Linked DNA regions of Homo sapiens: region 2 is linked to region 1. A link means that fine-mapping ties the variant in region 1 to the expression of a gene that starts in the linked region. Tissue or cell type: whole blood. Region 1 holds a variant in brackets; the other region holds the start of a gene. All regions are shown on one strand. Distances are from middle to middle.

What was found. PIP is the estimated chance that this variant, and not a neighbour inherited with it, causes the effect.
Region 2: DIP2C starts here. The variant in region 1 is fine-mapped to the expression of DIP2C in whole blood (TOPMed, PIP above 0.99).

The regions. Positions count from the first base shown.
Region 1 is chr10:481,232-487,236 of GRCh38, forward strand. DIP2C (disco interacting protein 2 homolog C) reads right to left here. Exons shown (of 37, transcript NM_014974.3): 2 at 5,228-5,299. Among named protein-coding and RNA genes, the nearest start is that of DIP2C-AS2, 140 kb to the right of the region's middle. The variant G/A (reference allele first, on the strand shown) is at 3,473.
Region 2 is chr10:686,760-692,764 of GRCh38, forward strand. DIP2C (disco interacting protein 2 homolog C) reads right to left here and starts at 2,909. Exons shown (of 37, transcript NM_014974.3): 1 at 2,735-2,909. The coding sequence starts at 2,819. RefSeq lists an enhancer at 3,284-4,219.

The sequences.
Region 1 (6,005 bases):
CACGTCTTCTAAAGACGACAGAACAAAATGGCATTTACGTACTTAAGAAACTTTCTCATTCCGTATGTAACCAAAGTGCAAAATTCACAAATGCCAACTGCAGGGACCTCCTCCCTCACAACTGTCAAAGCCCAGTGGGAGAATCTGCAACGGGACCTCAGAGGAAGCCCTCTCCGTGGCGACAGGGCAAGGCAGCCACTGCAAGCAACAGCACTCAGGCCAGAGCAGCTGTTCTCATGAGAACATGTGATCCAGTCACAGGATCAAACACTGGGATGGGAGCCAAGTTCTGAAAAGATAATAAAATTCCACTGATTGGATGGTGCTGAGGTACATGTTACCCTCTGTCATTTCAGTCATTAATTAGCCCTTACATGTTACCATCTGCCATTTAAATTTACCCAAATCAAGAATAAAAATAAAACTGCAGCCCAGATAGACACCTGAGGCAGTGGAAGGTCTCCGGTGCCTGTTCAGGGCTTCACGTGGATCTGAGCATCATGCGGACACGGTGGCGTCTGCCCTCAGGGACACTGCACATCCATCCTCGTACCACGGTAGGGACGGTCACTCAGTGGGGCGGGGGGAAGTGAGGGCTGCCCCGGCCCACCCCCACAGGCAGACTCAGCCCCTCCGTGCCGCACCCACACATCCATACAGCAAATACCTGCCCAATGTCCACTTTCCGTGAGCAGGCAGCCGGGGCCTCAGGTGATTTACATACTGCTGCTGGGGGTTGGGGTGGAGACTTAGCGTTTAGTAACCACCACCCAACTATGACAGTGGTATTTCAGAGACAGGACGACATGGAGATGGGAATCCGGATGGTCTGACTGAAGGATCAGGGGAGAAATCCCTCAGGACAGAGCATCCAAACTGAGCTTTAAATGCCACCTGGACACGGCCAAGTGCACGGCCTGAGCAGAGTTCCTCATGTGGATGCAGCGGCATGGCTGTCGGGAGGGACAGCGGCGTGGCCATCGGGAGCCCTGGTAGCAGGGAGGAACTGAGACAAGTCCGTATTTGTGATTTGACTCAACAGTTGGACAGCACAGTGCAAGCCTGCAGGCCAGAGGCCTCCGGTGCAGACAGTGTAGAGCTTAACTCACACTGACCATGGGAGGCCTCTTCCTGGAGAGGCTGCTCACGCGACCCCATGATGGAAAAAGTGTGGGGCTTAACTCACACTGACCACGGATACCTCTTCCCTGGAGAGGCCGCTCACGTGACCTCATGGAGAGAGGCTGTGCCGCACAGACAAACCCCCTTACAGAGTCCTTGTAACTTGCACCTGGGCATCAAGCTGTCCGGCTATTGAAGGAAAAGCAAGCTGGGCTTGGAGAGGAATACCAGATCTTCATAAATCACTCAATACCAAGAAACATTTCACAGACAAACACATAAGAAGTTGCTGTGAGAAAGAGGAGCTGTATCTGAGCAAAGAAGGTTCCACCATTTATAGCCACACTGAAATTTTACTCTCTAAATCTCCACGGCCTGTGTCATACAAGCAGTGAGGCCTTGTTATCCAAGTCGACACTGTTATTAAGATCTCTCTGAAGAGGCTGCCAGGCAGTGGATTTTATTTCCTAGGTTTACAACTTTGACTGGGCTTAGAGACTGATGAGGGATGGGTTTGAACCGCAGAAGGGTGAGAGCGAAGTGGGCAGCTTCCCTAAGCAGCGTCTTCTCCCTGAAGATGATCTTCCAGGCACCCTCTCTGACCCTTCTTTCACTGCATGTATAACTCACATTTCTTCCTGGCTCCGGACAGTCTTTTCCTCAACTAGATTTAGGCAGGTGCTCAGCACCAACGCTCACTTCTGAATCCCGACTGGAGGCCCCGACAGACGCTGCCCTCCTGAGCAGCTGGGACGTGCCTGGCTGGCCTAGGGAACAGAACCCCCATTGTAGCTCGTAATTCTGCATCCCAAACAACATCCTAGAAACACTTTTAGAATAGTTTCTGGAGGAATAGGAATGTAAATGTTAGGAAAAAAGGGTGGAAGTTAATCAGAACACAAACCCCTTACAGGCAAGTGCGCAGCAGCACAGGGGAACAAGAAAGAAAGATGTTTTCCACGAAGATCCTGCACAAAGGAAGTCACGTCCCATGGGGCCAACCAAGAAAGCAGCCTCGGCTTTGGAAACGTCTGCGTTCCTTGCTGCTTCCCAGGACAGCTGCACATGGTGCACACTTGCGTGTCACAAGCAACGTCTCCAAATGAAGGTCGGCAGGGAAACAGCCTCGCTGGGGCCCTAGCACCGCTGTCCGGAGTCCCCCCATCCTGAGTCTGGTGTCTGGGCCTCAATCAGGCGGCCCGGGCCGTCCTTCTCCTGTTTTCCTCACGTTTCCGGCAGATAAATTCTGAAATGGACCTCGTGGCTAAAACCCAGCCCTGTCGCCTTCTCATCAGCTCTGCCCCTTGCTCCTGAGAGGGTGCGAGGGAATCAGCCCAGAGAGGGCTCCTGAGAGGGCCCAGAGAGGAGGAACGCAGTGGAGGCCAGGAGGCGAGGCGGGGTGTCCTCTTCTGAGACCCCAGTGGCCAACTGTAATAATAAAGTTTGCCTCTATGACTTCATTTTACCAATTTTTTTTTTTTGAGACAGGGTCTCGCTCTGTCCCCCAGGCTGGAACACAGTGCCACAATCATAGCTCACTGCAGCCTTGACTTCTTGGATTCAAGCAATCCTCCTGCTTCAGCCTCCCATATAGCTGGGATCACAGGCACCCACCATCATGCCTAATTTTTTCTTTTGTAGAGACGGGGACTCCCTTTGTTGCCCAGGCTGGTCTGAAACACCTGGACCTAAGCAATCCCCTTCCTCAGCCTCCCCAAGTGCTGGGATCACAGGCGTGAGCCACCACCCCCGGCCTTGTATGTGATTTTAAAACACATTTTGAAGTGTAACCCTGAACACGAACCTAAAACTTCCACCTGCATATGATTTTCTTCATTCTGGTGGAAAATGCACTGAACTCCCTTTTTGCATCATGAAATTCCTGTATTCAAAATACTGTCCGCCAAAGTAATTCTTACCTTTGAACAGAATCCTTACCTCTAAGAACATACTCTATGATTAACTGCTTTTTCTATTTCAAAAACCCTTACTTTGCTCTTTGGAGATGGAAATCTCAAAATCACTCCTTCTAGCAGATCTCAGAGGCCAAGACCCATCAGCTCATCCTTTAATTGGGTCTTTGGCTATAAGATGAAAGTCTGTAGAATACCAGTGGCTTTAAGAAGTTTTATAATTTGTCACGCATTCTTCTTAAGTGTTTTCTAAGTGGTGCCCAACTGAGAAAGGGGAATTGTAAAAGCAACGTTCTACTTCAATAGGAAACGCAGAACTGGGCCCTGATTCACAGGGACAGACCTGGTCTCTGGCGAGCTCTGGGCCTGTGGAGCGACCTGGCTCACTGGAGAATGGGACCCTCAGGCCCCCAAGGCCACACCCTACACGTCTGTAC[G/A]GGATGGCACTCGGCGGGTGGCCCTTTTCTAATGTGTACCCTGCTGTGGGGCTGGCTCTCAGCAAAGCAGCGCTCACCGAAACGAAAGTAAAACAGAGGCCGGTTCCCTGCGGTGCTGGCCACCCGCTCCCGAGCCGCAGCTTCTCGGACGTCGCACACCCCGATGTGGGCAGAGCGGAATGTTCTCCTCGGCGCTCCTTCACTGTGCTGCAGTCTACACCGAACCACGGCAGCTCCATTCGCTGCTGTAACAAGTTGAAAAAAAACTAATTAATTCAAACTTTAGTTTTTTTTAAATTTGTTACAGCGCTGAGCAGAGCTGCCGACCCCATGCAGGACAGCACACAGACCACCAAGGGGACCACAGGGCACGACCGCCCTCTGCGCCCGGCTAAGGCCAGGGCCACCGCGGGAGGCACGGTGCGCTGGAGAACCGTCCTGGCAAGCGAGGAACCGCTTCTGTTTCACTTTTGTTTGGCAAGGCAAGAAAGTTAAAACCAACAGCGTCCGTGGCCTACAGTCAGACCCCACCTTCTGCAGCACATGAGGGCACCTGCAGAGGGGAACTCACAGGGACAGGGCGGGGGCAGCTGTCGCCCCATGGCTCTGCGAGAAGAGAATGAGGGAGGGGGCGCAGGCCATCAGGGGATCTACCCAGCACTGCCCTGAAGCCTCTCGCCCCAGCATTCCAGCCCAGCCCTCTGCTCCCCTTCTCTCGGGTTCCTCGGCGTCTATCCCTGACTTAAGCCTCTGCTAAGCAAGGTCCACAGAAACATGTTCACTGTTACATCACTGTCTCAAAAATCAAGGCAAGAAAAACACGAAATGAAAACAAAACTACCAATAGCAGAATCTCCACACCGTTTCCTGCAGCCTGAGCCTCAGGAAACTTTCCTTACTGAGTCAACAGGACCCGGACGGGCCTCGGGAAGAACAGAATCGGGGTTTGTGCAGGTGTGGACATGTGCATCCTTAAACCTTCTAAAATCTTCTTTCAATGGTAAGAACTATGCAAGTTCAATTTCCACCTTTAAAATTTATGTTGCTAGCCTTTATGTTTGAGGAAGAAACTGCTTGTGTTAGCTTTAAGCCATTCCTCAAGCCTACCAAATTTTCAAGGTCGCTCTTGGGCTGAATTGAGCTTGCCAGCTGGGAACTGAGGTGCTAGAATCCCCATCTAATATGAGATTCTTTTTCCTGACATTTACAGAACCCAGCTCAAGTGCAGGAAAGCTGCCAATCTGCACACGTAGAAACGCTGGCGGGAAACCGACTGCCCTTCTCAAGAATCATCATGGATGTTTGCAACCACATCTCAACACACAACCAGCTTTCACGATTGCCAAGTCCTGGGCGGGGTATCACAGCACTGTCTAGATTTGGCCTGTGCCACCAACAGAAGCCTTGGATTAAACCAGAATCAATAGTAATAAATAGCTCTCTAAACCAAATATGTTGAAATCACTAATGCACTCATATTTTTACGATTATAGCATTTTAAAGTAACCAACCCAATACCGATCTCTACTTATAGAGAAAACACCTATTAGGCACACTTATAGAAAAATCCTCTGTGCCTTGTATATTCACACAGCACGTGTGATCACTCAAAGGAACTGAATGCCTGGAGGGTGAACGCCAGACGCCTCCTCCTGCCGACTGGGAAGCAAGGGAGCGTCTGCCTCCAGATGTTTCTCTGGCACATAGTGAATGCGGGAAATGAGAGGACTCATGCTACTCATGGGGGTTACCTACTCGGAGGCTGCGGAAGGTAGGCTCCAATTAACTTTGACCTCTTCTTTTCATATCCTTTTTGTGTGATGTCACCTGCAAGAGAAGGAAAATGAAGTTCAGTATGGTCTCCGTGGATAGAGCATTATCATTCAACGGTGCCCAAGAAGACACAGTTATCACAGTATCTTCTGTGTGCCTCATTGTTAGAATTTTAAAAGCAAGCACTGCACATCAAACAACTTCAGTTCCTCCCCTGCTCTCGAACAAAAGCCCACAGCATGTAAGTCACTAAAACTCATTTGTTAAACACACGCCTGTTTCTGGCCCCTTCTGTATTTATCCGGATGGGGTCCAGGGTTAGACCCCTGCCATCTCATCCCCACCCGCTGGCACAGGAAGCCAAGCCTGGTGGCCGGGGCTCTCGTTAACTCAGTCAACGACAGATCCTGCAGCTGCCAGGGCCGGGATGGCCGACACCAGCACCTATTGGCATCTTCTTCATTAACAAGATGTTTTCTAACCAAGCAGGTCGGTCACAAGGACTTGAAGCCGCCACAGTGTTTTTGAAAAAGGAGTGACAAAGGCTAAGGGAAGAAGCAAAAGGTGTGAAACCTGCAGAAATCCAGAAGACAAGAGAAAGGTGCTTGTGGTGAGGCAAGAATCCACATGTTAAAGCTCACAGACAGCCACGGACGCGCAGCAGCCATGCCTTTCCTGGAGCCAGCGCAAGCACACAGGACAAAGCCACCTCATCGACACACAGAGGCCCTTCCCATTCACAAGCTCCAGCACACACAGA
Region 2 (6,005 bases), 210 kb after region 1:
CGGCCCCGCAGCAGGAAGTGCCCCTGCAGCCCTGCAAAGCAGGACACCAGCAGTGCATGTAATGGCGCCCAGCAGGCGGGCACAGCAGAACTGGACCAGGGTCTAGAAACCCACACAATGCGTAACCCACGCAGGCTGGCAGCCCACACAGGAACCTCAGGGGAATGCTCTACTCTTTCCTTCAGTCTATGTTATGTGCTTAAAACGGAACTTTTTCCATCCTCCTCTGTAGGAAATGAGCACTGGAAATTCCACATATGTTTCTATAATATTTTCTGATATTTTAATAAAATGATGACAACCAACTTAAAGAATTCTCTCCACTTGAATTTTGATTGAAGATGGGAAATAATTCAGCATTAACAGCTGTTTTCAGCTTTCACTCTGAAAGCAGATACATTGAGGAATTTTTGAAGTCCAATAACATAAAGAAACACAGAATTTTGATCCTTCAATTCTTGGATTTCTATTAAGCAATACTGGAAAACAAGTTGATTCATCTAATTTAAGCCTGTAAAACTGTTTTATGTGGTTATGAGACAGAGAATTCCAAATGACCTTACAGCACTACCCCCATAAACTCAACCTGGGCAAACCCACACTTCACAGCAAAGTTAAAGACCATCCAGCAAACAGATGAGGCAGTGGGGCCAGCACAGGCCGGAGGGTGCAGAGAGGCTGAATAGAGCCACGGAGCAACCCTCTCACCCTTTCTTCTTAAATGTGTAGCTCAGATCTCAGCAAGATTCATGTGGAAGGAAAAATATAATTAGGCTTCCTGCATGCAAACACACACACCCCTTTCTCTGCCTGGTCTCTCAATAAGAAACTAACTCATTAAGCCCTTTTTAAAAAACCTGTACAGACGCAAGGTGTTCACAGGGAATTCGGCTGAGCACACCTTCGTCGAAAGTGGCTTTGCCATCATCTGGGCAGCAAGACAGTATCACTCACCCTCCAAGAGCAACTGACAGGCAAGTGTCGTCACCTCAAAAGGCCACAATGCCCAACACAGGACACCCATTCCCATAGACATCCCAGACTCTGGGAACAAATGTGGGTCCAACTTCTGGGCTAGCAGTGGGTGGGGGAACCCTCAGATGGGGCTCGCCCTGCTGAGCTCAGGGGCGCTACGCTCTGCTGACCTGGATGGGGCACTGACACTTCACATCAGTGTGATGCAGGCAGCACAGAAGCCCCTGTCCTGAGACAGCGAACACGGAGGGTGCTGCAGGCAGGGGTGCACCTGGGCCGAGACGCAAGCCGGGAAACCTACCCAAGGCTGACACAATCAGATAACCAGGGTGGGCCTTTTGCAAATGATACACTCCTTACCCACCAAACGAGCTGTCTGCACTGCACAATCTACTTACCAGTTTACATCCGAACCCTGCACACGGCAGCTCCCGCCTCCTAGCCATGCCCTCCTCATCCTCAGCTCCTCAGGAGGGCAGCAGCCAAGCCCACAGGCCTGGAAGACTCTGCCCCCCGCCAACTGTGTCACGTTACAGGACACTGACACACCTCGCGGAACCCCACATCTGAAACTGAAAAACAGTACCATTTCCCGTCCCCAGAAGTCTGGAAAGGCAGTTGGCTGCACACCATGGCCCCTGCTCACTCCCTTCTTTGCCCTGAAAGTGTTAAAAAGGAAAACATAAAGTCAACACCAGCTCCTCCCTGCCGGTGAAAATTGGCACGAATGAGTTTACTTTCTGGCTGCCGGCCCTCACAAAACCGTTACCCAAAAAAAGTTCACCATGCTAAACTGCTCCAAATATAAATGTGAGACGCGCCGGCCCACCCCCACCCCACCCCACGTTACAGGAATGGCCTGACCAGGATGAGCCCAGAGACGGCTAAATGCACATCAAACATTTCAGATTTGGGAACTTCAGTGGTTTTGGGGAAAAGACCTGGCAAAGCCCGATCTGAAACTTATGACAGTTGAGCACATGATCTCCGCCATGAAGAGCAAATAAGAGGCGTACACAACCCTCCATAAGACCGCGGTGGCTGATCTGCCACAAACCCTCCTACGAGAGGACCAGGACGGCAAGGCCGGAGCCCGGCCCGGGGGGAGGTTGACGATTCCGCCCAGCCCTCCCCGCGCAGCGCCCGCGAACAATGGGGGTGGGATCCCCCGGGCCGCGCCAGGACCGCTGCACGGCCTGAGCCACCAGAGATCGAACCCGGGGTCCAACGACAAGTTTCGCATTGAAATCTGGCCGGGCGTTCCAGGCCGAACCCGCCAGCGAGGAGGTGGCGCGCACCGCGCTGCTGCACCAAGGACGCCGCGGCTCCAGCGCAGAGCGCACGGGAAGGCCGATCCCGCCGGGCCCGCTGCATCCTGCGTCCCCGCGCGGCGCCCAGGCCCCACAGACACCCCCAGGGCGCGGGGGGATCGCGGCCCCACAAACATCCCAGGGCGCGGGGGATCGCGGCCCCACAAACACCCCCAGAGCGCGAGGGGATCCCAGGCCCCACAGACACCCCCAGGGCGCGGGGAATCGCGGCCCCACAAACGTCCCCAGAGCGCGGGGGATCGCGGCCTCACAAACGTCCCTAGGGCGCGGGGTCTGGGGGTCCGGGGGACGCGCACGCTCCGGGCTGGGGTCGCACCTCCCCCTCCGGGCCCGGCCCCCGCCCCGCCGCAGGCCCCGCGCCCCCAGCCCTCCGCGCGCGGCCCTCCCCGGTGACAGCGCGGCCCGGCCCGGGGCGGGGGCCCGGTTACCTTCCGACAGCTCCAGCTCCAGCTCGGCCAGGCGCGCCCGCACCTCCAGGGGCAGCGCCATGCCCTCCAGGCTGCGGTCCGCCATGCTCCGCGGGCGCCGCGCCCCGCACGGCCTCCTCTTTGTTCGCAGGCGGAGGTCTCGGCGGCTCCTCGCGCCCGGCGGAACCGCACCGAGGAGGAGGCGGCGGCGCGGGCGCGGGAGGCGGGCGGCGGGCGCGCAGGGACCTCCCTCCCCTCGGCGCCTCCTCAGCGCGGCCCCGCCACGGCCGCCTCGCGCGCCCCCGCGCCCCACGGTCCCCGGCCCGCCCCGCGCGCGCTCGGCCCCTCCCCGCAGGCGCTGCGGACCCGGACCCGGCCCTGCTGCTCTCGGCCCCGGCCCGGCGGGAGCGTCTCTGCGCGCGCGCGTCACGGGGCCGCGGGGGCAGGGCGCGCGCGCGCGGGGCGCGAGGACGCGCAGGAGCGGGAGCGCGCGGGGGGGCGCGCGGCCGCGTCGGCGAAGCGCGCGCTCCCGGGGGCGCGCTCGGGGGCGGGTTGGGGGCTCGGGGCCCGCGGGGCGGGGCGGGGCGGGGCGGTCTTGTCTGTCCTGGGCTCTGCGCGTCCAGCGGAGCCTGCGGGCCCGGCCCCAGAGCCTGGTCCACCCGGCTCCCTGCGAAAATCACGTCCTGGAGCCGCAGCTTGACGTCTGCGCGAAAACTCGCAGTGCCCCGGGTCTTGGAGGGCTGGTTTTTTGTTAATGAACATTTTAAGAGGCGGAGACGGAGCGCTAGGCTGGAAGTTTCGAATGCAACGACCAGCAGATGACCTTGAGCGACTCTGAGCCTTTGCCTGGAGGGTCAGTGTCCCCATCTGTGAAAAGGGGATGGGAAGACAAGGTTGGGTCACCTAATCTCCAAATGCCAGGTGGGCCCGAAAAGCCTGGCTCCAGCCCTCCCGGAACAGGCTGCAGGCCCCAGGGTTCCCACCGTCCTTCTCCTTGTGGGGCCATCAGCTCCCAGCCTCAGTGCCACCTCGGCGAGGCTGAAGCCCCGTCTGTGCCTCTAGTCCTGACCATCTGGGGAGGCCCTCGCATCTCCAACCGTCCACTGAGCAAACTTCCCTGGAAGCCCCTAGACACCCCAAACGCCACAAACCCTAAATGAAGCCAGCTGCTTCCAGTGACTCTTAGTCACTGGAAGTTCTGCTTCTCAGAACCGCCCCCGTTGTCTTCATCATCACCTTCCTCTGTCTCCACACATCCTCCCCAGTCTGTTGCACAAAGCCCCGACGACCTGGCCTCCTTTTCATCCTTGTACCCCCTCTTCCCAGCCCGGCCCCTCCCTTAGGCCCAGAGCTTCCTAAAGACCTCCTCGCCTCCCCGTCCTCCACGGGACATTGGCCAGCGCTGGCTCCCGGAGGCCCAGCTGCACTCACTCCCCTTTCAGAGTGGGCCGCAGGAACACAGGTCCCCCACCTCACCCCCCTACCCCTACCCCCCACCACCCCCCCACCCCGCTTCGACCGGAGCCCCCACCAGCCGGGACCCACCTGCACGGCAGCCTTGCGGCCTCCACACTCCGGCTCCTGCAAACAACGCGGCTGACCCGCAGCACCTCTGCTCCCGGCCTCCACCCCGGAGAGCCTGCCCCTTCTCTGCCCCTGCCACCCACAGCCATCCCTGACCCCAGGTCCAGAACAATCTCTCTCCTTTCTCTTCCTGCACCGGCCACTTCCCGCCCTCATCACGTTTGACCTTTTTTATCTTCTCTGTATTCTTTGTGAGTGTAAGCGCCTGGAGGACAGAGCCCATGCCTCACCCACCTTTGCCCTTCCCATGGATCTAGCAGTGGTGGCAACCGCCAGAGGTGTGTGCATTTCCTGTAAGGATCGGTCCTTTCAGTGGGGAATTGTGAGAATGACATTCGACGATGAGCTGGGAAACAGGAACCCCAAACCCGTGTGCTTCCTGCGCCGAGCCGTGTGCCTCCGCCTGGTGTGCGCCGTGGGTTCGTCCTTCGCTCCAGACTGCGTTCAATGCAACAGATACGGGTGGCACAAGCATGTGGCCCCACCATCATCTCTCCCCTTTGCATGATAAAGAGACCGACCAGCAATGCAGGGGCCGTGGGGAAGATCCCACACAGCCCCTACACGTCACAGATAAAAGTCCTTAGAGACAGAAAGGGGAGCAGAACCAGGATTCAAACCCCAGTCTCCAAAGCAAAGCCCTGAGTTCATTTCATTACAGCAAAGATGCACTGTGCATTCCAAGCAATAAATGGTGTCAAGTCCATTTAGGGCGGTATAATGTCGGAATAAAAAATATATATTCGCGGGCCAGGCACGGTGGCTCACACCTGTAATCCCAACACTTTGGGAGGCCAAGGCAGGTGGATCATGAGGTCAGGAGTTCAAGACCAGCCTAGTCAATATGGTGAAACCCCATCTCTACTAAAAACTACAAAAAATTAGCTGGGCATGGTGGCACACACCTGTAGTCCCAGCTACTCAGGAGGCTGAGGCAGGAGGATCACTTGAACCCGGGAGGTGGAGGTTACAGTGAACCGAGATCGCACCACTGCACTCCAGCCTGGGTGACAGAGCGAGATTCAGTCTCAAAAAAAAAAATACATATATATATATATATATATATATATATATATTCTTTTTGATGGGCCTTAATCATTTGCATATGATCCTATGACTGATGTTGGTTGCAAAGAAAACTTGTAATTTGCATTAAACACATCAATTGCAAACTCAGATTTTGAGCTGATGGTTCCTTTCAGCAGGTCTTTGGGCACCTACACATTACACGTGTGAGTGTGGGCTCTCGGTCTTAGACTGCCATTTCCAGGAGCCTGATAGATATCATCTTTATCTGGAACTCCTACCATCTCCTTGAAATTCATGCTGTCCACAATCAAACTCATCCTACCTACCAATACTTTCCCCCATGTACATTATTTCTGAGAGCAGCCTCCCTTTCACTTTGAGTCCCCTCAAGAACTTCTACCCACAGCATTTCTCTTGTGCGCCACCTGCTCCTGTCGAGGCCTCTGGCTATGGCCCATGTCAGGCCTTCAGAGCCTCCTTCCAGTCTTCCCACCACGGCTGTCAGATCACTCTTCTAAAAAGTCCCTCTTAGCACAGACCACAGGCCCCTTGCTGTACAACCCATGATTCTATGCCTGCAAACTGAAGAAATCCTTAATTGACACCAATGGTCTCACGAGCCCTGCACTAAACATTTCTCCTGCTTTCTGTTCCTCCCGTCTCTTTCAAGCTCCGAGGT